Linked DNA regions of Homo sapiens: all the other regions are linked to region 2. Evidence: fine-mapped expression QTL. A gene starts in region 2. Each other region holds a variant in brackets. All regions are shown on one strand. Distances are between the middles of the regions.

Region 1 (9,811 bases), 28 kb before region 2:
CCTGGCTAATTTTTTGTATTTGTAGCAGAGACAGGGTTTCACAACGTTGACCAGGCTGGTCTCGAACTCCTGAACTCAAGTGATCTGCCCACCTTGGCCTCCCAAAGTGCTGGGATTACAGACGTAAGCGATTGCACCTGGCTTCTATGTTTAACTTATAAAAAAACCTGCCAAATTGTCTTCCAAAGTGGTTGCACCTTTTTACCTTCCTACCAAAGCATATGAGAGTTCCTATTGCTCCACATCCTCACCAGCACTAAAATGACCATATTGTCATTTTAATTTTAGCCATTTTGTTGGATGTGAAGTGACAACTCACTGTGGTTTTGATTTGCATTCTTCTCATGGCTGAAGATGTGTATCTGACTGGGCATGGTGGCTCACGCCTGTAATCCCAGCATTTTGGGAGGCTGAGGCAGGAGGATTGCTTGAGCCCAAGAGTTCAAGGCCAGTGTGGGCAACAGAGCACGACTCCGACTCTACAAAAAATACAAAACTTTGCCAGGCATGGTGGCATGCACCTGTAGTCCCAGCTACTCAGGGGGCTGATGTGGAAGGATCGCTTGAACCCAGGAGGCGGAGGTTACAGTGAGCCAAGATTGAGCCACTGCATTCCAGCTTGGGCGACAGAGCAATACCCTGTCTCAAAAAAAAATGTAAAAAATTAAAAATTTTAAAAACATAAAAAACCTTAAAAGAAACTGTCCAATTGTCTCCCACCAGCAGTGTGTGAGTTCCAGCTGCCCCCAAATCCTTACCTACACTGGATATTGTCGGTTATTTTTATTTTATCCATTCTAAAAGGTGGCGGGGAGCAGTGGCTCATGCTTGTAATCCCAGCACTTTGGGAGGCCAAGGCAAGAGGATCACTTGAGCCAGAAGCTGGAGACCAGCCTGGGTAACATAGGGAGACCCCAACTCTACAAAAAAATTAGGCCGGGTGCGGTGGCTCACCCCTGTAATCCCAGCACTTTGGGAGGCCGAGGCAGGTGGATTACCTGAGGTCAGGAGTTCCAGACCAGCCTGGCCAACATGGTGAAACCCTGTCTCTACTAAAAATACAAAAAATTAGCTGGGCGTGGTGGCACATGCCTGTAATCCCAGAGGCTGAGGCAGGAGAATCGATCGAACCTGGGAGGCAGGGATTGCAGTGAGCTGAGATGGCGCCACTGCACTCCAGCCTGGGCAACAAGAGGGAAACTCCATCTCCAAAAGAAAAAAAAAAAAAGGCCTTATCTCCTGTCTTAGTCCATTTAGGGTGCTACAAGAAAATACTAGAAAATGGTGGCTTATAAACAACGGAAATTTATTTCTCACAGTTCTGGAGGCTGGGAAGTTCATGATCAAGATACTGGCAGATTCACTGTGTGGTAAGGGCCGGCTTCCTGGTTCATACGTGTCTTCTCTCTGTGTCCTCACATGGTAGGAAGAGCAAAGTGTTTCTTTGGGGCCTCTTCTGTAAGGGCACTAATCCCATTATGAGAGCCCCACCCTCATGACCTAATCATCTCCCAAGGGTCCCACCCCCTAATACCTTAGGGGTTAAGACTTCAACAAATGAATTTGAGAGGAACCCAATTCAATTCATAACAGGTATGCAGTGGCATATGCTTGTGGTTTTAATGTGCAATTTATATGATATCTGCCAACCATATAATTTCTTTGGTGGTGTCTATTCAAATCTTTTGCCCAGTTTTTTTTTGAGACAGGGTCTTGCTATGTTGCCCAGGTTGGACACCACCTAACGGGCTCAAGTGATCCTCCTGCCTTGGTCTCCAGAGTAGCTAGGACTACAGGTGTGAGTCACCATGCCCAGCTTCTTTTGCCCAATTTGGTGTGGAGTTTTTTTCTACTTTATTCTTATTTTATTTATTTATTTGAGACAGGGTCTCACTGTTCCGCCCAGGCTGAAGTGCAGTGGCCCAATCTTAGCTCACTGCAGCCTCAACCTCCTGGGCTGAAGTGATTTTCCCCACTCAACCTCCAGAGTGCCTGGGCCTACAGGCACGAGTCACCACCCCCGGCTAATTTTTAAATTTTTTTTTGTAGAGACAGAGTCTCACTATGTTGTGCAGGCTGATCACCAACTCCTGGGCTCCAGTGATCCTCCTGCCTCAGCCTCCCAAAGTGCTGGGATTACAGGCGTGAGCCACCAAGCTCGCACTTTTTTCCCTTATAATTGAAGGGTTCTTTTTTACAGCTTTATTGAGGCATCACTGACAAATGAGGTACTGTGTGTATTTGCAATGTACAATGTAATAGGTTCTGACATGTGTATAGACCCGAGAAACTAACACAATCAAAGAAGTTAACAGACTCATCACTCATGTCCCCTTGCCCCTTCAAAATCCCTCCTGCCCACCCCACCCTACCTGCCTTTCCCCAAGCACCCACTGATCAGCTTTCTGTAATTATACATTAGTTTGCTTTTTCTAGGATTTCATATAATGTATGTAATGTATACTGTACACAGTATACATTTTTTTTTTTTTTGAGATGGAGTCTCGCTCTGTCTGCCAGGCTGGAGTGCTGTGGCGCGATCTCCGCTCACTGCAAGCTCTGCCTCCCAGGTTCACGCCATTCTCCTGCCTCAGCCTCCCAAGTAGCTGGGACTACAGGCGCCCGCCACCACATCCAGCTGATTTTTTGTATTTTTAGTAGAGATGGGGTTTCACCATGTTAGCCAGGATGGTCTTGATCTACTGAACTCGTGATCCACCGACCTCGTGATCCACCTGCCTTGGCCTCCCAAAGTGCTGGGATTACAGGTGTGAGCCACCATGCCCAGCCTTTTTTTTTTTTTTTTTTTTTTAAAGAATGAGTTTTGCTCTTGTTGTCCAGGCTGGAGTGCAATGTCTCCACCTCAGCTCACCGCAACCTCCACCTCCCAGGTTCAAGCGATTCTCCTGCTTCAGCCTCCCGAGTAGCTGGGATTACAGGCACCTGCCACCACACCTGACTAATTTTTGTAGTTTTAGTAGAGGCAGGGTTTCACCATGTTGGCCAGGCTGGTCTTGAACTCCTGACCTCAGGTGATCTGCCCGCTTCAGCCCTCCAAAGTGCTGAGATTACAGGGATGAGCCACCATGCCCAGCCATCCCCACATCTTGAGGCCAAAATCCCAGGCATGTGGCTGGGCTCAGTGGCTCACACCTGTAATCCCAGCACTTTGGGAGGCCAAGGTGGGTGGATCATTTGAGGTCAGGAGTTCAAGACCAGCATGGCAACATGGTGAAACCCCGCTTTTACTAAAAATACAAAAATTAGCCAGGTGTGATGGCGGGCACCTATTATCCCAGCTACTCGGGAGGCTGAGGCAGGAGAATTGCTTGAACCCGGGAGGTGGAGGTTGCAGGGAGCCAAGATCGGGCCACTGCACTCCAGCCTGGGCAAGAGTGAGACTCGGTCTCAAACAAAAACAAAAACAAAAAACAAAATCCCAGGCATAAATCAGACAAGCCATGAGGGTTCATTCACAATGATTTATTGGCTGCCCCTCCACACCGAGCTGAGGTGGACAAGCAAGAGGATGAAACCTCCCCAGGACCCACCTAACTCCCAGGCATCACAGGAACAAGGCAATTTTCCAACAGCCTGGCAACGTCTGGGACTCCAACGAGGTCTGGGCCCAAACCTCACCTGAGACTGGCCACGCCCGTCCCATGCACCCACCCCTCTCAGACATCCTGGTGACCTAGGCTGAGATGAGGGTGACCAGGAGGGACCCTTCAGCTATAATATCATCCACCTCGCTCACACTGAAGCAGGCTCCTGGCCCGCCCAGCAGCAGCACAAGGCTGACCACAGAGCAGGTAAGCATCTGTATGTTTGTTCAATGGCTGAATGAGTGACAGTGGACTCCAGCCTGAGGGAGACCTGATACATCCAGGTCCCAACTGTGCACACTCAGAGCCCCTTGATAGAGCTGGATCGTGGAACCCCAACCAGCTGTTTCCATTTCTTTGGTTTAGGGGGAGCCTGAGACGAACAGATCACAAGCCTTTCACGCCATCTGATCTCTCAAGCCTGCCCTAGACGTGTCTACTGAGGGCTTCCTTTGTGCCAGGGAACTTGTGCGTTTCTCTGATCCACACACACGAATGATCTAAAATGCAAAGCCATTTGCAATCATAATTTCCAACTGTCCTGGTCTCCCCTCCTGACTGCACGAGGCTAGGAGCATGTGAGCCTTTTTTAACTGCAGCTTCGCATCGGCCCTTCCGTACAGAGGGGGGCCAAGGGTCTCCACTATACAGATGGGGAGCGCCAAGCTCAGAGGAGGAAGGCAACTTGTCCAGGGACGCCCAGCAAGAGTCGGGACTTTCTGGCCACGTGAAAATGTCTAGCCACTGAGGAGC[G/A]TGGTAAGAAGAGACTTTGAAATGGCAGCACCTGGCTCACAGGTACTTAGAAAATGTCCATCAAATGAATGGATCTCAACATGGCTTGAAGTTCTTCAGGAGTCAATATGCAATTTTTTTTTTTTTTTTTGAGACAGGGTCTTGCTGGAGACAGGTCTTATTGGCCAGGCTGGAGTGCAGTGGGAAGATCTCAGCTCACTGCAACCTCCACCTCCTGGATTCATGTGATTCTCCTGCCTCAGCCTCCCGAGTAGCTGGGATTAAAGGCGTGCACCACCACGTCTGGCTAATTTTTGTATTTTTGGTAGAGATGGGGTTTCACCATGTTGGCCAAGCTGGTCTTGAACTCCTGACCTCAGGTGATCTGCCCGCCTCGGCCTCCCAAAGTGCTAGGATTATAGGCATGAGCCACTGTGCCTGGTCAAGATGCAATTTTAAAGAAGGAAAAATACAACTAAGAATATCATGCCAACCAGTGACATTCTTGACTGGAGCTGCTGCCAGGATTCTGTGAACCCCTCCAAAAGCTGTGACTCTATGGGGTCCTGGCAGAGAGAAAGAGGGAACCCCGATTTCTACAAAAGTTCTTCATCCTCATCCCCATATCTCAACCCCCACATCAGCCCTGGAGGGTGAGCCAATGACCCTGATTTGCAGATGGGGAAGTCAAGGCCAGGAAAGGATAGATCTGAGCGCAGGAAGCCTCCCAGCTCAGAGGGTCCTGGGTCCGGGTCCTCTCCCCGGTGCCCCTTGGGCCACCCCCTAATCCGCCTTCTTGGCCTTCTTCTTCCTGGAGCCCTCGCTCAACTCCTCCTTGGACTTGGCGGGCATGGCCGAATGCTGAGCTCCTGGCCCACCACCGCTGTGGGACCCACCATGGTTGTCGTGGTGATGGTCACCCCCGCAGGCCGAACCAAACAGCACGGGGCAGATGTAGCCCTCCAGGGCATCAAAGGGGGAGCTGTGTGAGTGGGTGGCTGTCAGAAACACCTGAGGTGGGGTGGCCAGGGAGACAGCAAGAGAGACAGAGGGAGACCAAGGTAGAAAGCAAAGGAGTGGAGGGCAGGGTGGGGAGAAGAGGGGAGAGAATGTCATCAAAGTCAAGGTTGGAGGTAGCCCAGACCCAGCCCTCTGGCTGCATGCACCCCCAGGATGATGGGCGACCATCTCAGGTTTCCCAGGATGCCAGATTTCAAGTGTTGACCCCTGGAAAGTTCCAAGCACACTGAGACTGCTGGTCACCCATCCCCCAGAATTCCCCACGACACCTGGGCTCAGAGAAAAGCTGTGCTAAGTGCAGGTCTGAAGGTCTGTGTCCTCCCAAATTCATATGTTGAAACCTATCACAAAGGTGATGGTATTAGGAGGTAAGGCCTTTGGAGGGGTAATTAGATCATAAGGGTGGAGCCCTCAGGAAAGACATTAGTGCCCTTATAAAGAGGCCCAGGAGAGCTAACCAGTCCCTTCCACCATGCGAGGACACAGTGAGATGCTGCCTATCTGCAACCAGTAAAGAGGGCCCTCACCAGAACCCGACCAGGCTAGTACCCTGATCTTGGACTTCCCAGCCTCCAGAACTGTAAGAAATACATTTCTTCCTTTTCCTTTTTTTGGAGACAGGGTCTCACTCTGTTGCCCAAACTGGAGTGCAATGGCATGATCTCAGGTCACTGCAGCCTCCACCTCCTGGGTTCAAGCAATTCTCATGCCTCAGCCATCCAAGTAGCTGGGATTACAGGCATGCGCCACCACGCCTGGTTAATTTTTGTATTTGTATTTTGTTTGCCTGTTTGTTTGTTTTTGAGACAGAGTCTCAATTTGTTGCCCAGGCTGGAGTGCGGTGGTGCGATCTTAGCTCACTGCAACCTCCACCTCCCGGGTTCAAGCGATTCTCCTGCCTCAGCCTCCCGAGTAGCTGGGATTACAGGCATGTGACCCCACGCCTGGCTAATTTTTGTATTTTTAGGAGAGATGGGGTTTCGCCATGTTGCCCAGGCTGGTCTTGAACTCCTGGCCTCAAGTGATCTGCCTGCCTTGGCCCCCTGAAGTGTTGGCATGAGCCCCCGTGCCTGCCCAGGAATAAATTTCTGTTGTTTCTAAGCCACCCAGTCTATGGTACTGCATTCTGTTATACAGCAGCCTGAATGGACTAAGACATTTGGCCTGGGGTAGAGCTACAAACATAGCAGGACAGGATCCCAGCCATCTGCTTGCCTCTCCCTTCTCGCCTAATGCAGGAAGACATGCTCACTCCCTTTTGACAGCCCTGGAGTCCTCACCCAGGGAAGACACAGCCCTGAGCTAAGATCTTCATGCAGAGGGAGAGAGCCCAGCCCCTGAAGACCCCTCCTGGGTGGGGTGATGTCAACTCAAGGCATGACTGTCAGACTAGAAGTATTCCTGGTCCAACTGAGTTCCTGGGTACCTGATGCTGCCATTTCAGCTTCTTGTCCCTCTGGTCTCTGTACCCAAGAGAGTGGGCCCACCTTGACCCTGGCTCAGGCTGGGTCCTTTACACAGAAGGCCTGTTCCTCTCATCTGTGTCCTGGCTGCTGGACACTGCCTTTTAAACTCTCTTCCCAGTGACCTACTGGCAAGCATCTCCCCTCTCTGGGCTGCCTGTCCCAGCCACATAAGGCTGGGAGTGTCCAATTTCCCCACTCCCAACCTGGAGGTGGCAGGGTGGCATTGGTCAAGGCAAGAATGCTGCAAGAAGAGAAAGGCTTACCTTACAGGACACCATGAACAAGGTGAAGATGAAGATGAGGCTGGCTTTGGACACTGGGAGCCAGCGGGTCTGCTGGAGGGTGAAGAGGATGGCTCCATACAGGCTGGCCTTGGTGGGGCTGGAGGGAGCAGCTGTCATTACCGGGAGGTGCCTGCATGGCTCAAGTCTTCATAACTCTGGCCCAGACACCCCCCTGCCCTGGCACCAGCTCCCATCCCAGCTTCTCTCTTTTCTTTTCCTTTTGAGATGGAATCTCACTCTGTTGCCCAGGCTGGAGTGCAGTGGCACAACCTCGGCTCACTGCAACCTCCACCTCCTTGTTTCAAGTGTTTCTCCCACCTCAGCCTCCCAAGTAGCTGGGATTACAGGCATATGCCACCATGCCTGGCTAATTTTTGTATTTTTAGGAGAGACAGTGTTTCACCATGTTGGCCAGGTTGGTCTCGAACTCCTGGCCTCAAGTGATCTGCTCGGCCTCCCAAAGTGCTGGGATTATAGGCATGAGCCACTGCGCCCAGCCACAGCTTCTCCTGATTGTAAGGTGGCAGGTTGAGATGGTGTCATCCTATGCATGATGGGTTAACCTGGTCCAAGGAAAGATCTGGCCTTTGTCCAGCTCCTGGAATATGCCCTCTAAGCCCTTGGAGTGTCCTGCCTTGATAAGACTGTCTTTGTTTGCCTGAGGACGGCCTTGGGCCACACCAGGTAGTAACAACGTAATTTATGGTGGGGGTCTTGGGCCATGCAGCATCAGGTGGACCTCTAGAGGGGCTGAAGACTGAGGTCAGCCACACAGGTGGTTAGCTAGTTCTGAGCCACAATAAAAATCCTGGATACCCAGGCTCAGAAGAGCTTCCCTGGTTGGCAGTACACCATGCATGTTGTCACACATTGCTGCTGGGAGAATGAAGCCCTGTCCACATGATTCCACTGGGAGAGGAAAACTGGATATTTTCACCTTTTCTTTCCTGTACTCTGCCTCATGCACATTTTGCCCCTGCTGATTTCTTGTTTGTGTATGAGTCAGAGTCTCATTCTGTCACCCAGGCTGGAATGCAGTGGCATGATCTCAGCTCCCTGCAACCTCCACCTCCTGGGTTCAAGTGATTTTCCTGCCTCAGCCTCCCGAGTAGCTGGGATTACAGATGCCCGCCACCACGCCAGCTGATTTTTGTATTTTTACTAGAGATGGGGTTTCGCCATGTCGGCCGGGCTGGTTTTGAACTCCTGACCTCAAATAATCCACCCGCCTCAGCCTCCCAAAGTGCTGGGATTACAGGCATGAGCTACCACGCCCAGCCAACCCCTGCTGATTTCGTTTTATTTATTTATTTATTTATTTATTTATTTATTTACAGAGACAGGGTCTCTCTCTATCACCCAGGCTGGAGTGCAGTGGTCTGATCATGGCTCACTGTAACTTCAAACTCTGAGGCTCAAGTGATTCTCCCACCTCAGCCCCCCAAGTAGCTAGGGCTAGAGTTATGTGCCACTGTGCCTGCTTAATTTTTAAGTTTTTTTTTTTTTTTTGTAGAGATGGAGTCTTGTTCTATTGCATAGGCTGGTCTTGAACTCCTGGCCTTGAGCAATCCTCCTATCTCGGCCTCCCACAGTGCTGGGATTACAGGTGTGAGCTGCCTCTGCTGATTTTATTCTATATCTTGTCACTGTAATAAATCATAACCCTGAATATAATGGCTTTGCTAAGTTCTCTGAGTCCTTCTAGCAAATCATGGAACATCAGGATGATCTTGGGGATCCCCCATCAGCTTATTTCCCCCAGAAAATGTGATTACAACATGCAGAGTTTTCCTTAACTTTTATTTTTTTCCTTGCAAAATAGGTTTAAGATATTTTTATTTGTTGCAAAAGACAGACCTGTGACTTCTATTCCTGATGTCTGTCTCTCATTGCTTTTTTTTTTTTGAGACAAGGTCTCGCTCTGTTGCCCAGGCTGGAGTACACTTGTGTGATCACAGCTCACTCCAGCTTCAACCTTCTGAGACCAAGCGATCTTCCTGCCTCAGCGTCCTGAGTAGCTGGGACTACAGGCACACACCACCACACCTGGCTAATTTTTTTTTTCTTTTTTTTTTTAGAGATGGGATGTTGTAATGTTGCCCAGGCTGGTCTTGAATTCCTGGTTTCAAGCAATCCCCCTACCTCAGCTTCCTGAATAGCTGGGATTACAGGGGTGGGCCACCATGCCCAGCTTCACTGCATGTATTTAATAATCCTTCCTTCCTCTCTCTCTCTCTCTCTCTGTTTCTTTCTTTGAGACAGAGTCTTGCTCTATTGCCCAGGCTGAAGTGCAGTGGCAGGATCTCGGATCACAGCAACCTCTGCCTCCCGGGTTCAACCGGTTCTCCTGCCTCAGCCTCCCATGTAGCTGGGACTACAGGCATGCCACCACCCCTAGTTAATTTTTTTTTTTTGAGATGGAATTTCGCTCTTGCTGCCCAGGCTGGAGTGCAATAGCGTGATCTCGGCTCACTGCAACCTCCGCCTCCCAGATTCAAGTGGTTCTCCTGCCTCAGCCTCCCAAGTAGCTGGGATTACAGGCATGCACCACCACACCCAGCTAATTTTGTATTTTTAGCAGAAATGGGGTTTCTCTATGTTGGTCAGGCTGGTCTCAAACTGCCGACCTCAGGTGATCTGCCCACCTCAGCCTCCCAAAGTGCTGGGATTACAGGCGTGAGCCACCGTGCCCAGCCTAATGATG
Region 2 (9,811 bases):
TGTAATCCCAGGTACTTAGGAGGCTAAGGCAGGAGAATCACTTGAATCTGGGAGGTGAAGGTTGCAGTGAGCTGAGATCGTGCCACTGCACTCCAGCCTGGGCAGCAAAACAAGACTGCATCTCAAAAAAAAAAAAAAGGAAAAGAAAAGAAACAGAAAAGTAAGCAAGCCTGACCCAGAAAATGCCAGTATCCCAAGTAATATATTCCTCCCTAGACTTCCAAATAAACATCACCACCCCTCACAAATGCCTTAGACCTTATCCCTGACAAAATTCTCAATAGATCTTTACAATCGCTAGGAAAGGGAGTCTGGGGTTCTCTTACCAATGATCCCATTTCACAGACAAATAAACTGAAGCTCATGGTGGTGAAATAACCATTGTGGTGTTTACTCAGTGCTAGTGGTAGAACTGACTCCCATGATTCAGAGACGTTTAGTTTCTTTTTTCTTTTTTTTTTGAGACAGGGTCTCACTCTGTTGCCCAGGCTGGAGTGCAGTGGCACGATCATGGCTCACTGCAGCCTCCACCTTGCAGGGTTCAGGTAATCCTCCGACCTCAGCTTCCCTAGTAGCTAGGACTACAGGCACATGCCACCACACCTGGCTAATATTTTTGTATTTTGCATTTTTTAATTTTTATTTATTTGTTTATTGAGACGGAGTTTCATTCTTGTTGCCCAGGCTGGAGTGGAATGGCACAATCTTGGCTCACCGCAACCTCTGCCTCCCAGGTTCAAGCGATTCTCCTGCCTCAGCCTCCCTAGTAGCTGGGATTACAGGCATGTGCCACCACGTCCGGCTAATTTTGTATTTTTAGTAGAGACAGGGTTTCTCCATGTAGGTCAGGCTGGTCTTGAACTCCCGACCTCAGGTGATCTGCCCACCTCAGCCTCCCAAAGTGCTCGGATTACAGGCATGAGACACCGCGCCTAGCCATTTTTGTATTTTTTATAGAGAAGGGGTTTCACAATGTTGCCCAGGCTGGCCATGAACTCCTGGCCTCAAGCAATCTTCCAACCTTGACCTCCCCAAATGCTGAGATTATCTGACCTATGCTGACATTCTTTTTTTATTATTATTATTATTTTTTTAGGAGACACGGTCTTGCTCTGTTGCCCAGGCTGGAGGGCGGTGGGGTGATCATAGCTCGCTGCAGCTCCCAGGCAACATTGATGCTGCTCTGTTGAGGACCACACTCTGAGCTTCATCCATTCTCAGGATTCTCAAGAAAGCCTGACCCAGCCAGGCGCAGTTGAGCTCCAACTCCTGGGCTCAAGTGATCCTCCAGCCTCAGCTTCCCAAGTAGCTGGGACCACAGACACACACCACCATGCCTGGCTATGAAATTCTTAATTTCTGAACAAAAGGCCCCACACTGATACTTTGTATCGGCCTGGCAAATTCTGTAGCTGGTCCAGCACACAAATTCTGAGAAGAAAATTTACAGATACCCAGCACGCACACCAAACTGGGACTAACAGTTCAATCCGACACCTCACTTTTCTTTTCTTTCTTTCTTTTTTCCAAGACAGAGTCTCAGCCAGGCTCTGTCACCCAGGCTGGAGTGCAGCAGCGAGATTTCGGCTCACTGCAACCTCCGTCTCCTGGATTCAAGCTATTCTCATGTCTCAGCCTCCCAAGTACCTGGGATTACAGGCGTGCGCCACCACACCTGGCTATTTTTTTGCATTTGTAGTGGAGACGGGGTTTTGTCATGTTGCCCAGGCTGGTTTCAAAGTCCTGGGCTCAAGTGATCCACCCGCCTCGCCTCCCAAAGTGCTGGGATTACAGGCATAAGCCATCACATCTGGCCTCCAACACCTTTCTTTTCTAAGGAAACCAATCTCACATCAATTGTACTGATTCTTAGAGTCAAGCAGACCTGGGCTGAGTCCCGAGGCTGCAACTGACCAGCCATGGGACCACAGGCTCATTGTGTATTTAAGATAGCTTAGCCACTATTTCCTGTTTCCCCAGTTATGAAAGGAGGAGGTTGAACTGGGTGGAGTATCCTCAGCCCTGATAACAGACATCAGTCACTGAGGGAGGGGAGATTAATATTCTGATTCAATTGGTGGGGGGTGGAGATAGGGGGTTTAAAAGCTCCTAGGAGGCCGGGCGCAGTGGCTCACACCTGTAATCCCAGCACTTTGGGAGGCCGAGGCAGGCGGATCACAAGGTCAGGAAATCGAGACCATCCTGGCTAATACGGTGAAACCCTGTCTCTACTAAAAATACAAAAAAAAAAAAAATTAGCCGGGCATGGTGGTGGGCGCCTGTAGTCCCAGCTACTTGGGAGGCTGAGGCAGGAGAATGGTGTGAACCCAGGAGGCGGAGCTTGCAGTGAGCAGAGGCGGCGCCACCGCACTCCAGCCTGGGCGACAGAGCGAGACTCCGTTTCAAAAAAAAAAAAGAAAAGAAAAAAAGCTCCCAGGAGCGTCTCATGAATTCATGAATAGCCAGGGTTTGGAACCACTTCTCAGCCTTCAGGAACCTTCAGGCTCTGGCACTTAGAGCCTGGATGGCTTATTCTAGGACTTCTGCAGAAATATCTTGAACCTTCCTGCAAGTTCCCAGGCAGCTTGGAGACCTCTTTTCTCAAGACATTTGTGTCCTACATTCCCACAGGGCTCCAACCCTCCTCAGTTTCAGATTTTTTTTTTTTTCGAGACAGAGTCTTGCTCTGTCGCCCAGGCTGGAGTGCAATGGCGTGATCTCGGCTCACTGCAACCTCCGCCTCCCAGGTTCAAGTGATTCTCCTGCCTCAGCCTCCCAAGCAGCTAGGATTACAAGCATGTGCCACCATGCCTGGCTAATTTTTTTATTTTCAGTAGAGACGGGGTTTCTCCATGTTGGCCAGGCTGGTCTCGAACTCCTGACCTCAGGCGATCTGCCCGTCTTGGCCTCCCAAAGTGCTGGGATTACAGGCGTGAGCCACTGTGCCCAGCCAGTTTCAGATTTTCTAAGGTTCTGCAACTGCCCAAGGAACTGGCCTGAACCACCAAGAATTCTTCCCCAGAAAGGAAAGATAGCCCCATGTTCATGCTAGGACAACACAAAAGCCTATTTTGTTTTGCAAAGTAATGTTCTCCAGGATAGCTTTTAAGAAAATAGGCTCTGGCATGTGGATAGGCAAAAATAGAATAAAAATTCCTAGCAAATAGAGTGTAATCCTGTTAGCATAAGAGCGTGCATTGGCTGGGTGCAGTGGCTCACGTCTGTAATCCCAGCACTTTGGGAGGCCTAGGTGGGTGGATCACAAGGTCAGGAGATCGAGACTATCCTGGCCAACATGGTGAAGGCTTGTCTCTACTAAAAATACAAAAATTAGCCAAGTGTAGTGGCGGGTGCCTGTAGTCCCAGCTACTCAGAAGGCTGAGGCAGGAGAATCGCTTGAACCTGGAAGGTGGAGGTTGCAGTGAGCCGAGATCACGCCACTGCACTCCAGCCTGGGCGACAGAGCGAAACTCCATCTAAAAAAAAAACCGCAAAAAAAAAAAAAAAAAAAAAAGCGTGCATTTACGTTTATAACTATATAGCCGTAAATGAATAGAAGAGACATCAAGAAAGGTGGCTGGCCACCAGTATGTTGACAGTAATTCTCTTTTTTTCCTTTGCCCTTTTCAGTTTGAGTTTTTAGTAAACAGGGGCGCTTATTTTTATCCTCTGAGAATAAAGCTATTTCCTTTCTGAGCTATAGTGGTAATTTACATCTAAGTGGGAGAAAGGCTTATGAAGTTTGGGGTTCCTTTATTTTTCTAAGCCTAAAATCTATTATCTAGTAAGTTGCTGGTGTTCTAGAATAACGGTGAACAAGAAACATTTAAACATTTGTTCACGGTGAACCTTTTATAAAAATAGAACACGTTCTAAGGAAGCCATTCATCCTCATTTTAAAAATTAAGAAGCAGGCTGTACCCTCCTGTGACCTCCCCAGCGTGGAGTCTGGAGCTGAGATGGAGGACACTGACCCCAAGTCACCCAGCCTTGGGGCCGGTTCTGCTCCGTAAGTGGAAAGGATCTGGAGCCAGGGCTGGAAGAATTCCCGTGGGGGCTCGGAGATTCAGCACCGTGGGGGAAGGGAGGGGAGTGGAGGGTGCTGGGCAGTTGCAGTGGGGAGGAGAACCGGTGTCACTTTCGCTGAACCTGACCGCAGCCCCCAGCGCAGTGGCCCTTATAGACACTCCGCTGGCGCTCTCAATCCGCGTGCCAAGGTCAAGGAGGGAGGTCACACCTGCGCGCGGCCAGAACAGATGCACCGACCCCCACCTGCACCCTCGCCACAGCCGGCGCCCCTTGCCCAAGTTCCTGCAGCTCTGACCCAACCAGGAGCCCCGACCCCAAGCACCTGTTCCCCCTCCTCTAAACCCGCGCACGCCTCTCCTTCCCCTCCCCCAGCTTCATCGTCCTGGGGGCTTCTCCCCCGGGCTCACCCCGGCGTGAGAGAACCCCACGATTCTAGCGCCTGCCTACTCCCACGATGCAATCCTTGAACCTGTCCCTCGCTCCCTCCACCACGCACGGGCTTCCCCTCTCTGCGACCCCCGAGCTGCCCCGGCCCGCGCCACCCGCTGCCGGTCCCCTCCAGCCCCCCGCCCCGGCTCACCTGGCTCATACTTGAGGTAGAGGATGGAGACGATGAAGTAACTGAGGTCGAAGACGGGGAAGAGCGGCACCCGCGAGAAGCTGAGCGCCAGTTCGCCCAGGCTCAGCGCCGAGAGCAGCTCCATGGCGCCCGCCTGCCCGCCTGCCGGGTGCCACCCGGGGCCCCGGCCTCGTCCGTCCCGCCGCCCGCGGCCCGGCGACTGCGCCCCCGCAGCTGGGCCCGCCCCCGCCCGCCAGGCGCCACCCCAGGCCCGGCCCCCGCGGGAGAGGAGGGGCGACGGCCCACCCCGGGACAGGTGGTGGGGACGCCCAGCACCACGGACGCAGCTGGACGGTCGGGCGTCCCAGGCGTTGACCCTCCTGCCATCGCTACCCCGTTCCGCCCAGCGAGGCGGGGTGCGGGGCACCCGTGCAAGGCGAGGGAGGCTGGGGAGCTGCCTGTTCTGGGGGCCCGTCCCTCACGGAGCCCACCCACGCGGGACGCCCGTTCCCAGGGGGCCGGATCGGCCAGGACTTTGTCCCCGTGGGCTCAATTAGGACCCCGATCTTCGGTGGAGCCCAGTGAGGACCCCTACGCCATGGTGGGACCCCATGAATCAGAACCCCTGTTCCCCGTGGAGATAGGTTAGGACCTCGGTCCTCTGTGGAGCCCCGTCAAGACTTTTCTGCCCCATAGGGTCCGTTCGATCAGGAACCCCGTCTCCGGTGGGGCTCTGCAAATCAGGACGTCTTGTGGGGGGCAGCTCAGTGGGAACCCCCGTTCCCCATGGGGCCCAGGAGGATCTCATTTTAGAGCCCAGTTGGTTGGGGCACCCGTTTCTAGGGACCCCACTGCGTCAGGACCCCGCACCCTGTGCAGCTCAGGAGTCAAAGGATTCCTTTTGTCCAGAAGCCCAATTTGGGACCCCAGAAAGTGAGTAGGAATTGCTGCCCAGCTAACCCTACGGCATCGAGACCTCACGCATGCGCGGCACGCTTCGAACGCGTGACCCAATCCCGCCCCCAGGAGACCCCGCTCCTCCCATTCTGGCTCTCGGGGCCTCCCCAGCGAGGTGGGGCGCTCGCGCTCCCCTAAGGGGGTCTGGCCTGCAGAGGGCGGGACCCTCCCAGCCTTGACCTTCGATTGGCCCAGCCCTCGCCACTGTTGCTTTAGGATTGGTCGGCTTGTGCTCCTCTCCCCTCCCTCCCTGGGGCTTCCGCTTCCGGTTCTGACGGACGCTTCGGCCGTAACGATGATCGGAGACATCCTGCTGTTCGGGTAATTAGGGGGACCAGAGGCTGGGAAGAGAGAGCCAGGCAGGACGCGGGGGCGCCCCTAGTAACTGTAATTCTCCCTCTGCAGGACGTTGCTGATGAATGCCGGGGCGGTGCTGAACTTTAAGCTGTGAGTAGGTCGCGGCCGGACTGCGGCTCCATCCGGGGAACCCGTAGCCCCGCCCTCATAAGCGTGATCTCGGCGCACTTCTCAGGCCCCGCCCCCAAGCCGCAGGCCCCGCCCTATCCGCCCTCTGGGCACGCCTCCAGCCTGGTTTATCTTCCTCGCCCCCCACCCCCCGAGAGACCTTAAACCCATACTCTCCGTTCCTTGGTTGTCCCTCTGTTCACCTTCCTGGAGAGCTTAAGCCCCATCCCCCAAGAAATAGCCCCACCGCGGACCTTCCGCCCTGCACCCGCACTGTCGGGCCACTTTGTAAACGGTCGGTGGCTGCTGACCTGGCTGTGATTGTCCGGGCAGTGGGGGCCCAGAGAAGGGTATTGAACGTCAGAGGTCACACAGCAAGTTTGCGGCAGGGCCAGGGCTGAAACTTAGTGTTTGTGGCCTTCTGAGCTGGGGGTCAGGGGGCTGAGGACTCTATGTCCCATTGAAAGTGGACACTGTCTGCTCCTCTTTGTAGGAAAAAGAAGGACACGCAGGGCTTTGGGGAGGAGTCCAGGGAGCCCAGCACAGGTAAGGTCTAATTGGATCCTGGAATTGCATGGTCCACTTCAGAGGACAGTTCTGTTTCGCCAAGCCCTACCTTCGTTTTCTTTCTTTCTCTTTTTTTTTTTTTTTTTTTTTTGACACAAGGTCTTGCTCTGTTGTCCAGGTTGGAGTGCAGTGGTGCGATCATGGCTCACTGCAGACTCGACCTCCTGAGCTAAAGTGATCCTTCCACCTCAGCCCCCTTAGTAGCTGGGATTACAGGTGTGTGCCACCATGCCAGGCTAAATTTTGTATTTTTTGTAGAGATGGGGTTTCTCCACGTTGCCCAGGCCGGTCTCGAACTCCTGGGTTCAAGTGATCCCTGCCTTGGCCTCCCGAAGAGCTGGGATTACAGGCGTGAGCCACAAGTTTTCTCTTTAATTGAGCGTGTGTGTGAGTGGGAGATGACTGAGAATGTGCTAGCCTTTCTGCCTACCTCTGTCATCTATTTCTTTCTCCTACCAGACCTCCCTGATGTGAGCACTCACATCACTTCCTACCGTTATAATGTTCTGTTATGTTTGCTGTCATCTGGCTAATGTCTGCCCCTCACATATGACTGTAAACTTCAGAGAAGAGGCCCTAGCTTGGCTTGTCCCATCCTTTGTTCTTGCCGTACCCGTCCTCCGATGCCTGTGAATGAATGAATGAACAACCTCACACATAGCTGTTGCTTTCAGAGTGCTGCAGACCTGCCACTTTTAAAATTAGATGCCAACATTAGATTTTTAATCAGGAGATTTTATATAAAAATTAAGATGTCTGATTTTTCTTGAAAAATTGGAACATTCTGCAACTCAAGATTCAGGAGAGCTGTTTGCATCTATTGAGTGTAGTTGAGAAGGACTCTGAGGAGGTGGGGCCTGTAGACTCTGCCTCATCCCAGCCCTAACCCCTTCATATGTCTATCATCTGCCTGGGCCCTGGAGGCCCCAGAATTTACACTTCCTGCTGAATTTGATTGTGTAACTATTTGGAGTCTTAAGGGGATCTGTACATGACTATTGTATCCATTCATTAATTCTTTCATTCACCAGATATTTGAGTACCTAACGCATGCTGGCTACTGTGCTAGGTGCTGGGGTACAGCAGGGGTAAGACAGATAGAGTGGAACTTACCATGGGGTGGGACACATGGTTTCTAAGCAGGGAATAGATAGTGACAGAGGTGACGTTAGGTGACAGAGGCAGGGAGTCACAGGATGGTGATGGGGTTGCCCTCCTGCTGGGGTGTGGAAGGGAAGGCCATTTGAGGAGGCGGCGTCACAGTCAAGGCGGTGGATGCCATGATGGAGCACTGCCCAAGGATGGGGGAACCCTGAGGAACAGAGGTTTTCTTCTTTTAGAGACAGGGTCTTGCTCTGTTGCCCAGGCTGGAGTGCAGCGGCACAGTCATAGCTCACTGCAGCCTTGAGCTCCTGGGTTCAAGAGATCCTCTTGCCTCAGGCTCCCAAGTAGCTGGGACTACAGGCACTTACTACCACGCCTGGCTAATTTTCTAAATGTTTTTTGTAGAGATAGGTATCTCGCTGTGTTAACCAGGCTGGTGTCCAACTCTTGGTCTCAAACGATCCTCCCACCTCAGCCTCCCAAAGTGCTGGGATCACAGGCATGAGCTACCACGCCTGGCCGAGCTGAGATTTTGAAGACACTCCAGCAGCTCCCCTTTTTGGGGGCCTGCCCTTGGGTGCTGACCCAGTTAGGTGCTTCCTGTTAGTGTTGCATTCTCCCTCCATTCTTAAAAGATAATGGTCACTTTCCCATTTTACAGATCAGGAAACTGAGGGTCAGAGATGTGGCTCAACTTTTTTGTGGCCACATAGGGAATCAATGAGAATCAGGATTAGAACCTGGGTTTTTCTGACTCTAGCGGTTGTGCACTCAATCACTAGACCATCTGTCCGTCTATCCATTGATCCATCCATTCATACATTGACTCAGCAGCCATGTGTTACTTAACCCCCACGTGGAAGGCACTACCAGGCCCTAGAGTTGCACTGTACAGATCCGAATCAGAGCTCCAGTGGGCGGGAGATTTGGCACAAAGTGGCAGGAGCATCAGTGACAGGGATGCCAGGCAGGGCACCAGTGCTCTGTCAGGAGCTTCCTGCTTTGCTGTGTCCAGTCTCCTTCCAGCCCAGGTGCTGCACCTGCTGCTTCCCCTGTGGGAGCTGCTCTTTGCCCTCCATCCTCTTTGCCTGGCTTAACTGTAATACCATAGTGGCTGCATTTGTTGAGAGCGTCATGCGTGCCAGGCAGTGTGCTAAGGTCTTCCTAGCTGCCTGACACCCCTATTGACACAAGAGGGAATGCACATAGATAGTGCAGGGATGGTCCCAGGTCACCAGGTCACCTGTGCAGAAGGACAGAGGCAGGATTTGAGCTCACATTTGTTAAACTGCCCATGTTTGAGGTCAGAACTTGGAGCTCTGGCACTTCCTCAGAAAGCCTGTTTTTTGTTTTTTTGTTGTTTTTTTTTTTGAGATGGAGCCTCTCTCTGTTGCCCAGGCTGGAGTGCAGTGGCACCATCTCAGCTCCCTGCAATCTCCGCTTCCTGGGTTCAAGCAATTCTCCTGCCTCAGCTTCCCTATTAGCTGGGATTACAGGCACCCACCACCATGCCCAGCTAATTTTTGTATTTTTAGTAGAGATGGGGTTTCGCCATGTTGGCCAGGCTGGTCTCGAACTCCTGACATCAGGTGATCTGCCCTCCTTGGCCTCCCAAAGTGCTGGGATTACAGACTTGAGCGACGGCACCCGGCTGGAAAGGCTTTTTTTTTACCTCCCACCCTTCCCCATGCACATGCCATGTTGGGTCTCTGCAGTGTGTATTCCCAGGACACCCAAACTTTCCCACCAGAGCAGTCACATGTGAATATTTGTTTAGTATTTCTCCTCCCCATATGCTTGTTGGGGCAGAGCCACCGGTCTTTGTTTCTTTCTGTATCCCCTGTATACTGCTGTTGCCTGGAATGAGTAACCTTTTTTTATTTTTTGAGACAGAGTCTCACTCTGTTGCCCAGGCGTGCAGTGGCGTGATCTCAGCTCACTGCAGCCTCCACCTCCTGGGTTCAAGTGATTTTCGTGCCTCAGCCTCCCGAGGATTTGGGATTACAGGCACGCGCCACCACGCCCTGCTAATTGTTTTGTAGTTTTAATAGAAACGTGGTTTCACGATGTTAGCCAGGCTGATCTCAAACTCGCGACCTCAGGTGATCCACCTGCCTCGGCCTCCCAAAG
Region 3 (9,811 bases), 40 kb before region 2:
ATGGGCACATGTGGCTGGCCACTACCTATCAAATTGTTCACAGACACCGTGTAACACTGCAGAAAATATCCTAGGATAACACATCAGGTGAAAATAGACAGGTTCAGGCCGGGCACGGTGGCTCATGCCTGTAATCCCAGCACTTTGGGAGGCCAAAGTGGAAGTATCACTTGAGCCCAGGAGGTCAAGACCAACATGGGCAATGTAGCAGAACCCTGTCTCTACCAAAAAACACAAAAATTAGCTGGGCGAGGTGGTGCGCGCCTGTAGTCCCAGCTACTTGGGAGGCTGAAGTGGGAGGATTACTTGAGCCCAGGAAGTCAAGGCTTCTGTGAGTTACAATCTCACTCATGCACTCCAGCCTAGGGGACAGAGTGAGACTCTCTCAAAAACAGCAAAAAACAAGAGAGAGTGTCCCAGAGAGCTGCTTTCTCTCATTCCGCCATGTGAGGACACAGACAGTAAGCACCATTTCTTTCTTCCTTTAAATTTCCATTTTTATTTTACTTATTTATTTATTTATTTTCGAGACGGAGTTTTGCTTTTGTCGCCCAGGCTGGAGTGCAATGCCATGATCTTGGCTTGCTGCAACCTCTGCCTCCCAGATTCAAGCGATAATCCTGCCTCAGCCTCCCTTCCCAGTAGCTGGGACTACAGGCGCCTGCCACCATGCCCAGCTAGTTTTTGTATTTTTAGTAGAGACGGGGTTTCACCATGTTGGCCAGGCTGGTCTCGAACTCCTGATCTCAGGTGATTCACCTGCCTCAGCCTCCCAGAGTGCTGGGATTACAGGCGTGAGCCACCACGCCCGGCCTCCATTTTTATTTTAGATTCAGGGGGTACATGTGCAGGTTTGTCATAAGAATATATTGCATGATGCTGAGGTTTAGGCTTCCATTGATCCCGTCACCCAGATAGTGAACACAGTACCCAATAGGAAGTTGTTTTTTGTTTTTGTTTTGTTTTGTTTTTGTTTTTGTGACAGAGTCTTACTCTGTCGCCCAGGTTGGAGTGTAGTGGGGCGATCTCGGCTCACTGCAACTTCCACCTCCCAGGTTCAAGCAATTCTCCTGCCTCAGCCTCCCAAGTAGCTGAATAACAGGTGCCTGCCACCATGCCTGGCTAAGTTTTGTATTTTTTTTAGTAGAGACGGGGTTTTGTCATGTTGGCCAGTGTGGTCTCGAACTCCTGACCTTGTGATCCACCCCCCCCCCCCCACTCCAAGCCTCCCAAAGTTCTGGGATTACAGGCGTGAGCCACTGTGCCCAGCCTGGCTTCAACATATCTTTTGGGGGGGACACAATTTGCCCCATAACAGGAGAGGGCATGTCTTTTTCATATTCTGACTAGCAATACGGGAGGTCCACATAAAATTCCCCTGCTGAGGATTCAGTCCTTGGTCATCTCTAGAAAACGTGATTGAATGATGGTTTGCTGCCTCCACAGCCAAGCTAGTGGCCTTTCTCGGGTAACACCATTTTTACTGGAAATGTCTGACAAACTGTGATTCAGATGTGGCTGCTTGGCAGACATTTTCTCAAAAATGAACAAAATGAGGCTGTCACTTCAAGGAAAACAATTTCAGGTTTTGTTGCCCACAATAAAATTCAAGCTTTTAAGGAGAAATCAGAATTTTGGAAAATGTGTAGCCACCACTGTGAGTTTGGCAGCTTCTTGACATTTAAAGACTTTTCTAAGCCTGTAACCCCAGCTACTTGGGAAGCTGAGGCGAGAAGATCACTTGAGGTCAGGAGTTTGAGACCAGCCTGGGCAACAAAGTGAAACCCTGTCTCTATAAAAAGTTTTTTAAAAAAATTATCCCGGCGTGCTGGCATGTGCGCCTACAGTCCCAGCTACCAAGGAGGCTGAGGTGGGAGGATCATTTGAGCCCAGGAGGTCAAGGCTGCAGTGAGCTATGATTGCACGGCTGCACACTTTTCTGATGAGATGAATAGTGATATTAATGAAGAGGACTTTTTTGATACAAAATAATGTAATGGGACAACATCTGCATCACTCATTGAACTAATATTTTCCAAATGATCAATGCATGTTATAGGCATGAATGAGTAGAACCATTCCCAGTGTAAGACAGACCAAAGACTTTTTTTTTTCTTTTGAAACAAGGTCTCACGTTGACACCAAAGCTGGAGTGCAGTGGCATAATCTCAGGTCACTGCAACCTCTGCCTCCCAGGCTCAAGAGACCCTCCCACCTCAGCCTCCCAAGTTAGCTGGGACCACAGACACACGCCAGCATGCCAGACTAATTTTTGTTCATATTTGTAAAGATGGGGTCTTGCTACATTGCCCAGGTTGGTCTCAAAAACTCCGGGGCTCAAGCAATCCACCCACCTTATCCTCCCTAAATGTTGGGATTATAGGCGTGAGCCACCATGCCTGGCCTCAGACCAATGTTGTTGTTGTTTTTGTTTTGTTTTGTTTTTGTTTGTTTTGAGACAGAGTCTCACTGTCTCACTCAGGCTGGAGTGCAGTGGCACGATCTCAGCTCACTGTGACCTCTGCCTCCCAGGTTCAAGCAATTCTTGTGCCTCTGCCTCTCGAGTAGCTGGGATTACAGGCACGTGCCACCATGCCTGGCTAATTTTTGTATTTTTAATAGAGATGGGGTTTCGCCATGTTGGCCAGGCTGGTCCGAACTCCTGGCCTCAAGTGATCCTCCTTCCTCTGCCTCACAAAGTGCTGGGATTACAGGCATGAGCTACCACACCCAGCCCCATGGTCAGTTTCTGTTGAGGAAACATGGACATTTGCGGGATGGTGAGATACTCATTTGTGCAGCTCAGAGTTTGATAAATTTCTCTTGGTTTTTGCCTAGTTAATTGCAATGTTCACTTCCTCTATGAATTCAGATATTTAGAGTTAGAAGGGATCTTCAGCATCATCCAGTCCAGGGGTTGGCCAACATTTTCTGCAAAGGGCCAGAGAGTGAATATTTTCAGCTGTGCAGGTAAGGTGGTCTGTTGAAATCACTCAACTCTGCTGTTGTAGCACAAGATCCACTATAGGTACCAGGCACAGTGGCTCAGGCCTGTAATCCCAGCACTTTGGGATGCCGAGGCGGGCAGATCACCTGAGGTCAGGAGTTTGAGACCAGCCTGGTCAACATGGTGAAACCCCGTCTCTACTAAAACTACAAAAATTAGCCGGGCGTGGTGGCAGGTGCCCGTAACCCCAGCTACTTGGGAGGCTGAGGCAAAAGAACCACTTGAACCTGGGAGGCGGAGGTTATAGTGAGCCTAGATCACACCACTGTACTCCAGCCTGGGCAACAAGAGCGAAACTCCGTCTCAAAAAAGAAAATAATAATAATAATAATAAATCTCTATAGGCGATAAGTAAACAAATGAGCATGGCTGCGTGCCAAGAAAATTTTATTTACAAACACAAGTAGGGGCCAGATTTGGCCCTTGGGCCATGGTTTACACACTCTTGACCTGCCTGGTTCAACATTTTTCTTTCTTTTTTTTTTTTTCAACTGAGGCAGAGTCTCGCTGTGTTGCCCAGGCTGAAGTGCAGTGGTGTGATCTCGGCTCACTGCAACCTCCGCCTCCTGGGTTCAAGCAATTCTCCTGCCTCAGCCTCCCGAGTAGCTGGGATTACAGGTGCCCACCACCACACCTGGCTAATTTTTGTACTTAGTAGAGATGAGGTTTTGCCATGTTGGCCAGGCTGGTCTTGAACTCCTGACCTCAAGTGATCTGCCCACCTAGGCCTCCCAAAGTGCTGGAATTACAGGACTTTGGGAGCCACCGGGCCGGCCTAGTTCAACATTTTCAATCAGCCAAGAAGGGTTCACCAAAGGTCACACGCAAGTTAGTTGCAAAACCAGAGCTCACACTCAGGCCTGCCAACATCTGTCTTTGTGCAGTCACTTTCACCTCTCAGCTGGCTTCAATGGCCTCAATTTCCTCCACTAATTGAGCTGGGAGTTTTCCTACATGCCTTCAGGCAGGCGCTAACAGGAAAGCACAGTGTAAACGCAGTCATAACCACCCACGTCTGTGGTCACCAGGGATGATGATCTAGGAACCAGGAGAGCAGGATAAGAACTTGCCTTTGCTAATGCCTGCTCTAGGTATTATTTGCTGATGCCTGCTCAGTGTCAAGGATAATGCTGAATTGTTCCATGCATGTATCTTACATATTCCTAAAGAGAATCAGAGAAGTGAAATGTGCAAGAAAAAGCATAGCTTTAGAATGAGATGGGCCTGGATTTCAATTCTTTTTTTTTTTTTTTTTTTTTTTTGAGATGGAGTTTCACTCATTCTGTCACCCAAGCTGGAGTGCTGTGGCGTGATCTCGGCTCATTGCAACCTCTGCCTCCCAGGCTCAAGCAATTCTCCTGCTTCAGCCTCCCGAGGAGCTGGGATTACAGGCATGTGCCACCTTGTCTGGGTGATTTTTTGTATTTTAGTAGAGACGGGGTTTCGCCATGTTGGCCAGGCTGGTCTCGAACTCCTGAACTTAGGTGATCTGCCTGCCTTGGCCTCCCACAGTGCTGGGATTACAGGCGTGAGCTACTGCACCAAGACTGGATTTCAATTCTGACCCACTGTCAGTAAGAGGTGACTGACCTCCACTCACCTTAGCACCCAGCCTCATTTATTTTCCACAAAATGAGGGTAACAAACCACCTTGACGATCTATTATATGTAAAATACCTGCTTATGGCTGGGCATGGTGGCTCACACCTGTAATCCCAGCATTTTAGGAGGCCAAAGTGGGAGCATCACTTGAGGCCAGGAGTTCAAGACCAGCCTGGGCAACATAGCAAGACCTCATCTCTACAAAACATTTAAAAATTAGCCAGGTGTGGTGGTGTACACCTGTAGTCCCAGCTACTTGGGAGGCTGAGGCAGGAGGATCAATTGAACTTAGGAGTTTGAAGCTGTAGTGTGGGATAATTGCACCACAGTGGCTCACACCTGTAATCCCAACAGTTTGGGAGGCCGAGGCAGGAGGATCACTTGAATCCAGAAATTCGAGGTCAGCCTGGGCAACATGATGAAACCCCATCTCTACTAAAAATACAAAAAATTAGCCAGCGTGGTGGTGCTCACCTGTAATCCCAGCTACTCAGGAGTCTGAGTGGAAGGATCACCTGAGCCCAGGAGACAGAGGTTGCAGTGATCCAAGATCGCACCACTGCACCACTCCAGCGTGGGCGACAGAGCAAGAACCTGTCTCCAAAAAAAAAAAAAAAAAAAAAGGCATTTCCATACACCTAACCTACTGAACATCATAGCTTCACCTAGTTGTCCTTAAACATGGTCAGAAAACTTACATTAACCTACACTTGGGCAAAATCAACTAACGCAAAGCCCATTTTGTAATAAAGTGTTGAATAGCTCATGTAATTTATTAAATACTGTCCTGAAAGTAAAATAGAATGGTGGTGTGGGTACTTGAAGCATGGTTTCTACTGAATGTGAATCTCTTTCGAAACATTTATTTTTTGTTTATTTTTATTTTTATTTTATTTATTTATTTATTTTGAGACAGAGTCTCAGAGTCTTGCTCTGTCGTCCAGGCTAGAGTGCAATGGCACAGTCTCGGCTCACTGCAACCTCCACCTCCCCAGTTCAAGTGATTCTCCTGCCTCAGCCTTCCAAGTAGCTGGGATTACAGGTGCCCACCACGTCTGGCAAATTTTTTTGTATTTTTAGTAGAGACCAGGTTTCACCATGTTGGCCAGGCTGGTCTCAAACTCCTGACCTCAGGTGATCCGCCCACCTCGGCCTCCCAAAGTCCTGGGATTACAGGCGCCCACCACCATGCCTGGCTAATTTTTTTTGTATTTTTAGCAGAGACAGGGTTTCACCATGTTGGCCAGGCTGGTCTCAAACTCCTGACCTCAGGTGATCCACCCGCCTCGGCCTCCCGAAGTGCTGGGATTACAGGCGTGAGCCACTGCACCTGGCCTCTTTTGAAACATTGTAAACTCAAGAAAA[T/C]TGTAATTTGTAAATCGGAGAGCACCTGTATTGTATGATTGTACCTATATGAGGTTCCTAGAGTCATCAAATTCAGAGAGACAAAGTACAATGGTGCTGCCAAGGGCTGGAAGAGGGAAGTGGGGAGTGAGTGTTTAATGGGTACCTTTGCAGGATGAAAAGATTTCTGGAGCTGGGTAATGGTGGTGGTTGCACAACAATGTGAATATACTTTTTTTTTTTTAGATGGAGTCTCGCTCTGTTGCCCAGGCTGGAGTACAATGGCACAGTCTGGGCTCACTGCAAACTCCGCCTCCTGGGTTTAAGTGATTCTCCTGCCTCAGCCTCCTGAGTAGCTGAGATTACAAGTGCGTGCCACTGCGCCCAGCTAATTTTTGTATTTTTAGTAGAGATGGGGTTTCACCATATTGGCCAGGCTGGTCTTGAACTCCTGACCTCAAGTGATCCACCCGCCTTGGCCTCCCAAAGTGCTGGGATTACAGGCATGGGCCACCATGCCTAGCCAATGTGAATATACTTAATGCCCCTGAAGTATACACTCAAATGTGGCTAAGAAATTTAGGACATGTGTGGTGGCTCATGCCTGTAATCCCAGCACTTTGAGAAGCCAAGGTGGGTGGATTGCTTGAGCTCAGGAGCTTGAGACCAGCCTGGGCAACATGGTGAAACCCGGTGTCTACTAAAAATACAAAAAAATTAGCCAGGCATGGTGGTGCACACCTGTAGTCCCAGCTACTTGGGAGGCTGAGGTGGGAGGATGGATTGAGCCCAGGAGGTCAAGGCTGCAGTGAGCTGTGATTGTGCCACTGCACTTCAGCCTGGGCAATAGAGCAAGACCCTGTCTCAAACAAACAAAAAAAAGATGATAAGTTTTATGTTGTGTATTTTACCACAATTTTTTTTAAAAAGGATAAAAAGAAACTTTCTCTCATTCCAAGACCAAGGAAGTTACTGAGTGTAACTTGCAGCCAAATTAGCCTGGACTTTGAGAGCCGATCCTCCAAGTTCTCACACCCACACTGGGACAACAGCCCCAGCCTGCCCCGCCAATCATTCTCCACCTGGCCAGTGGCTTGCACACCCCCTTCGCAGACTAGGCTGGGAGGCTATTTTGGTACAATCTGTTCTCTTGGAAAATGAGATCTCAGAACATTAGTGCCAGAAGGCAGGGAGCCGACTTATCTCCAACACCCACCAGATGCTAAATGAACCCGACCAGGGGTTCTGTGAGCACTTTGACAGAGGCAGCTTTTGTCCCAACTCCAGACCTCACTTTGTGCCAAGGACTTTCCAGTCACTCCTCCTAGCCATCCTAAGAGGAAATTGAGGCTCAGAGAAGGGGAGTTACTTGCCCAAGCTACGTATCTCGGAGATTAAAAGCCAGGGTTTGGCCAGGCATGGTGGCTAACACCTGTAATCCCAGCACTTTGGGAGACCGAGGCGGGTAGGATCACTTGAGGTCAGAAGTTCAAGACCACCCTGGCCAACATGTTGAAACCCTGACTCTACTAAAAATACAAAAATTAGCCAGGCATGGTGGCTCTTGCCTGCAATCCCAGCTACACGGGATGCTGTGGCAGGAGAATCACTTGAACCCGAGAGGCGGAGGTTGCAGTGAGCCAAGATGGCACCACTGCACTCCAGCTTGGGCAACAGAGTGAGAATCTGTCAAAAAAAAAAAAAAAAAAAAAAACAAAGACAGGATTTGAACAGATTTGGGAAACCCCAAAGGCTGCTCTCTTTTTCCTTTTCTTTTTAGATTAAGGTAGAATTTAGCCACAAAATTCTGCAAGGTTTTTTTTGTAGTGTTTCTTTGTGGGTTTTTTGTTTTGTTTGTTGTTTGTTTTTTTGTTTGTTGTTTTGAGACAGGTCTGGCTCTGTTGCCCAGGCTGCAGTGCAGTGGTGCAATTTCGGCTCACTGCAACCTCTGCCTCCCAGGCTCAAGTGATTCTCCCACATCAGCCTCCTGAGTAGCTAGGACTACAGGCACATGCCACCATGCCCGGCTAATTTTTGTATTTTTTGCAGAAATGGGGTTTCACCATGATACCCAGGCTAGTCTCAAAGTCCTGGCCTCAGGTGATCCTCCCACCTCAGCCTCCCAAAAGGGCTACGCTGCCGGGCGAATTCTGCAAGTTTATACAAACATATACAGTTGTGTAACTACTGCCACGTTAAAAATGCAGAACAGTCCCTTCCCTCCCAAAATTCCTCTGTCTCTCTTGTGGATAATCTCTCCTTCCATCTCAACTCCTGGCAGCCACTGATCTGTTTTCTATACTTAAAATTTTGTCTTTCCTTTTCTTTTCTTTTTTTTTTTTTTGAGACGGAGTCTCGCTCTGTCACCCAGGCTGGAGTGCAGTGGTGCACGATCTCAGCTCACTGCAACCTCTGCCTCCTGGGTTCAAGCAATTCTCCTGCCTCAGCCTCCTGAGTAGCTGGGACTACAGGCACCTGCCACCCCCAGCTAATTTTTGTATTTTTAGTAGAGGCAGGGTTTCAGGCTGGTCTCAAACTCCTGACCTCAAATGATCCACCCACCTCGGCCTCCCAAAGTGCTGGGATTACAGGTGTGAGCCACTGCACCTAGCCCAAAATTTTGTATTTCTAAAATGACCTACAGCCGAGTATGTGGCACGCACCTGCAATCCCTGCCACTCAGGAGGGTGAGGCGGGAGGATCCCTTGAGCCTGGGAATTTGAGGCTGTAATGATCCATGTTCCTGCCACTGCACTCCAGCCTGGGTGACAAAGCAATACCCCATCTCTAAAGATAAAATGTCCCGCCAATGGGAGCACACAGTCTCTTGGGTCTGGATTCTTTCATTTAGCAAATGCATTTGAGATTCAACCACACTGCTGTAGAAGGTCACTCCTTTTCATTGCTGTGTAATGTTCCATCACATGCATAAACCAGGTGGCTCATCCGCTTACCAACTGATGGACATTTGGGATGTTCCCAGTTTTTGGTGATTACCAAAAAAAAAAAAAATAGGTGAATTTTTGTTTCACCACAATGGGACTGTTGTGTTTATAGGGTAAGTGATGTTTAATTTAATAAGAAACTATCAGGGATTGTTGTGTTTATAGGGTAAGTGATGTTTAATTTAATAAGAAACTATCAGTCTGGGCAAGGTGGCTCACACCTGTAATCTCAGCACTTTGGGAGGCTGAGGCAGGAGGATCACTTGAGCCCAGGAGTTTCAGACCAGCCTGGGCAACAGGGCGAGACATCATCTATATAAAAAATACAAAAATTATCTGGATGTGGTGATGTGTGCCTGTAGTCCCAGCTACTCAAGCGGCTGAGGCGGGAGGATCACATGAGCCCAGGAGGTCGAGGCTGAAGTGACCTATGACTGCACCACTGGACTCCAGCCTGGATGACAGAGTGATACCCTATCTCAAATAAATACATAAATAAATAAATTTAAAAGAAACTGTCCAATTGTCTCCCACCAGCAGTGTGCGAGCTCCAGCTGCCCCCAAATCTTTACCTGCACCAGGCATTGTCAGTTACTTTAATTTAATCCATCCTTAAAGGACGCTGGACACAGAGACTCACATCCCTTTGTTTTGGGAGACCAAGGTAGGAAGATCACCTGAGTCCAAAATTAGCCCCAAGGTGATGGTATTAGGAGGTGCGGCCCTTGGGAGGTGATTAGGTCATGAGGATGTGGCCCTCATAATGGGATTAGTGCCCTTCCACAAGAGGCCCCCAAGAAACTCCTTGATCTTTCTACCATGTGGGGACACCAAAAGAAGACACCATCTGTGAACCAGATAGCCAGCCCTTACCAGACAGTGAATCTGCCAGCATTTTGATCTTGAACTTCCC

The links. PIP is the estimated chance that this variant, and not a neighbour inherited with it, causes the effect.
Region 1: its variant is fine-mapped to the expression of TMEM38A in whole blood (TOPMed, PIP above 0.99).
Region 3: its variant is fine-mapped to the expression of TMEM38A in nasal epithelium (TOPMed, PIP 0.92).

The regions. Positions count from the first base shown.
Region 1 is chr19:16,683,681-16,693,491 of GRCh38, reverse strand. TMEM38A (transmembrane protein 38A) reads right to left here. Exons shown (of 6, transcript NM_024074.4): 5 at 7,087-7,204; 6 at 3,469-5,348. The coding sequence ends at 5,121. Among named protein-coding and RNA genes, the nearest start is that of TMEM38A, 27 kb to the right of the region's middle. The variant G/A (reference allele first, on the strand shown) is at 4,359.
Region 2 is chr19:16,656,140-16,665,950 of GRCh38, reverse strand. TMEM38A (transmembrane protein 38A) reads right to left here and starts at 4,812. Exons shown (of 6, transcript NM_024074.4): 1 at 4,610-4,812. The coding sequence starts at 4,733. It overlaps SMIM7 (small integral membrane protein 7), which reads left to right and starts at 5,807. Exons shown (of 5, transcript NM_024104.4): 1 at 5,807-5,866; 2 at 5,951-5,992; 3 at 6,504-6,556. The coding sequence starts at 5,841. RefSeq lists an enhancer at 3,651-4,459 and silencers at 4,745-4,994, 5,015-5,214.
Region 3 is chr19:16,696,424-16,706,234 of GRCh38, reverse strand. No RefSeq gene overlaps it. Among named protein-coding and RNA genes, the nearest start is that of NWD1, 19 kb to the left of the region's middle. The variant T/C (reference allele first, on the strand shown) is at 5,975.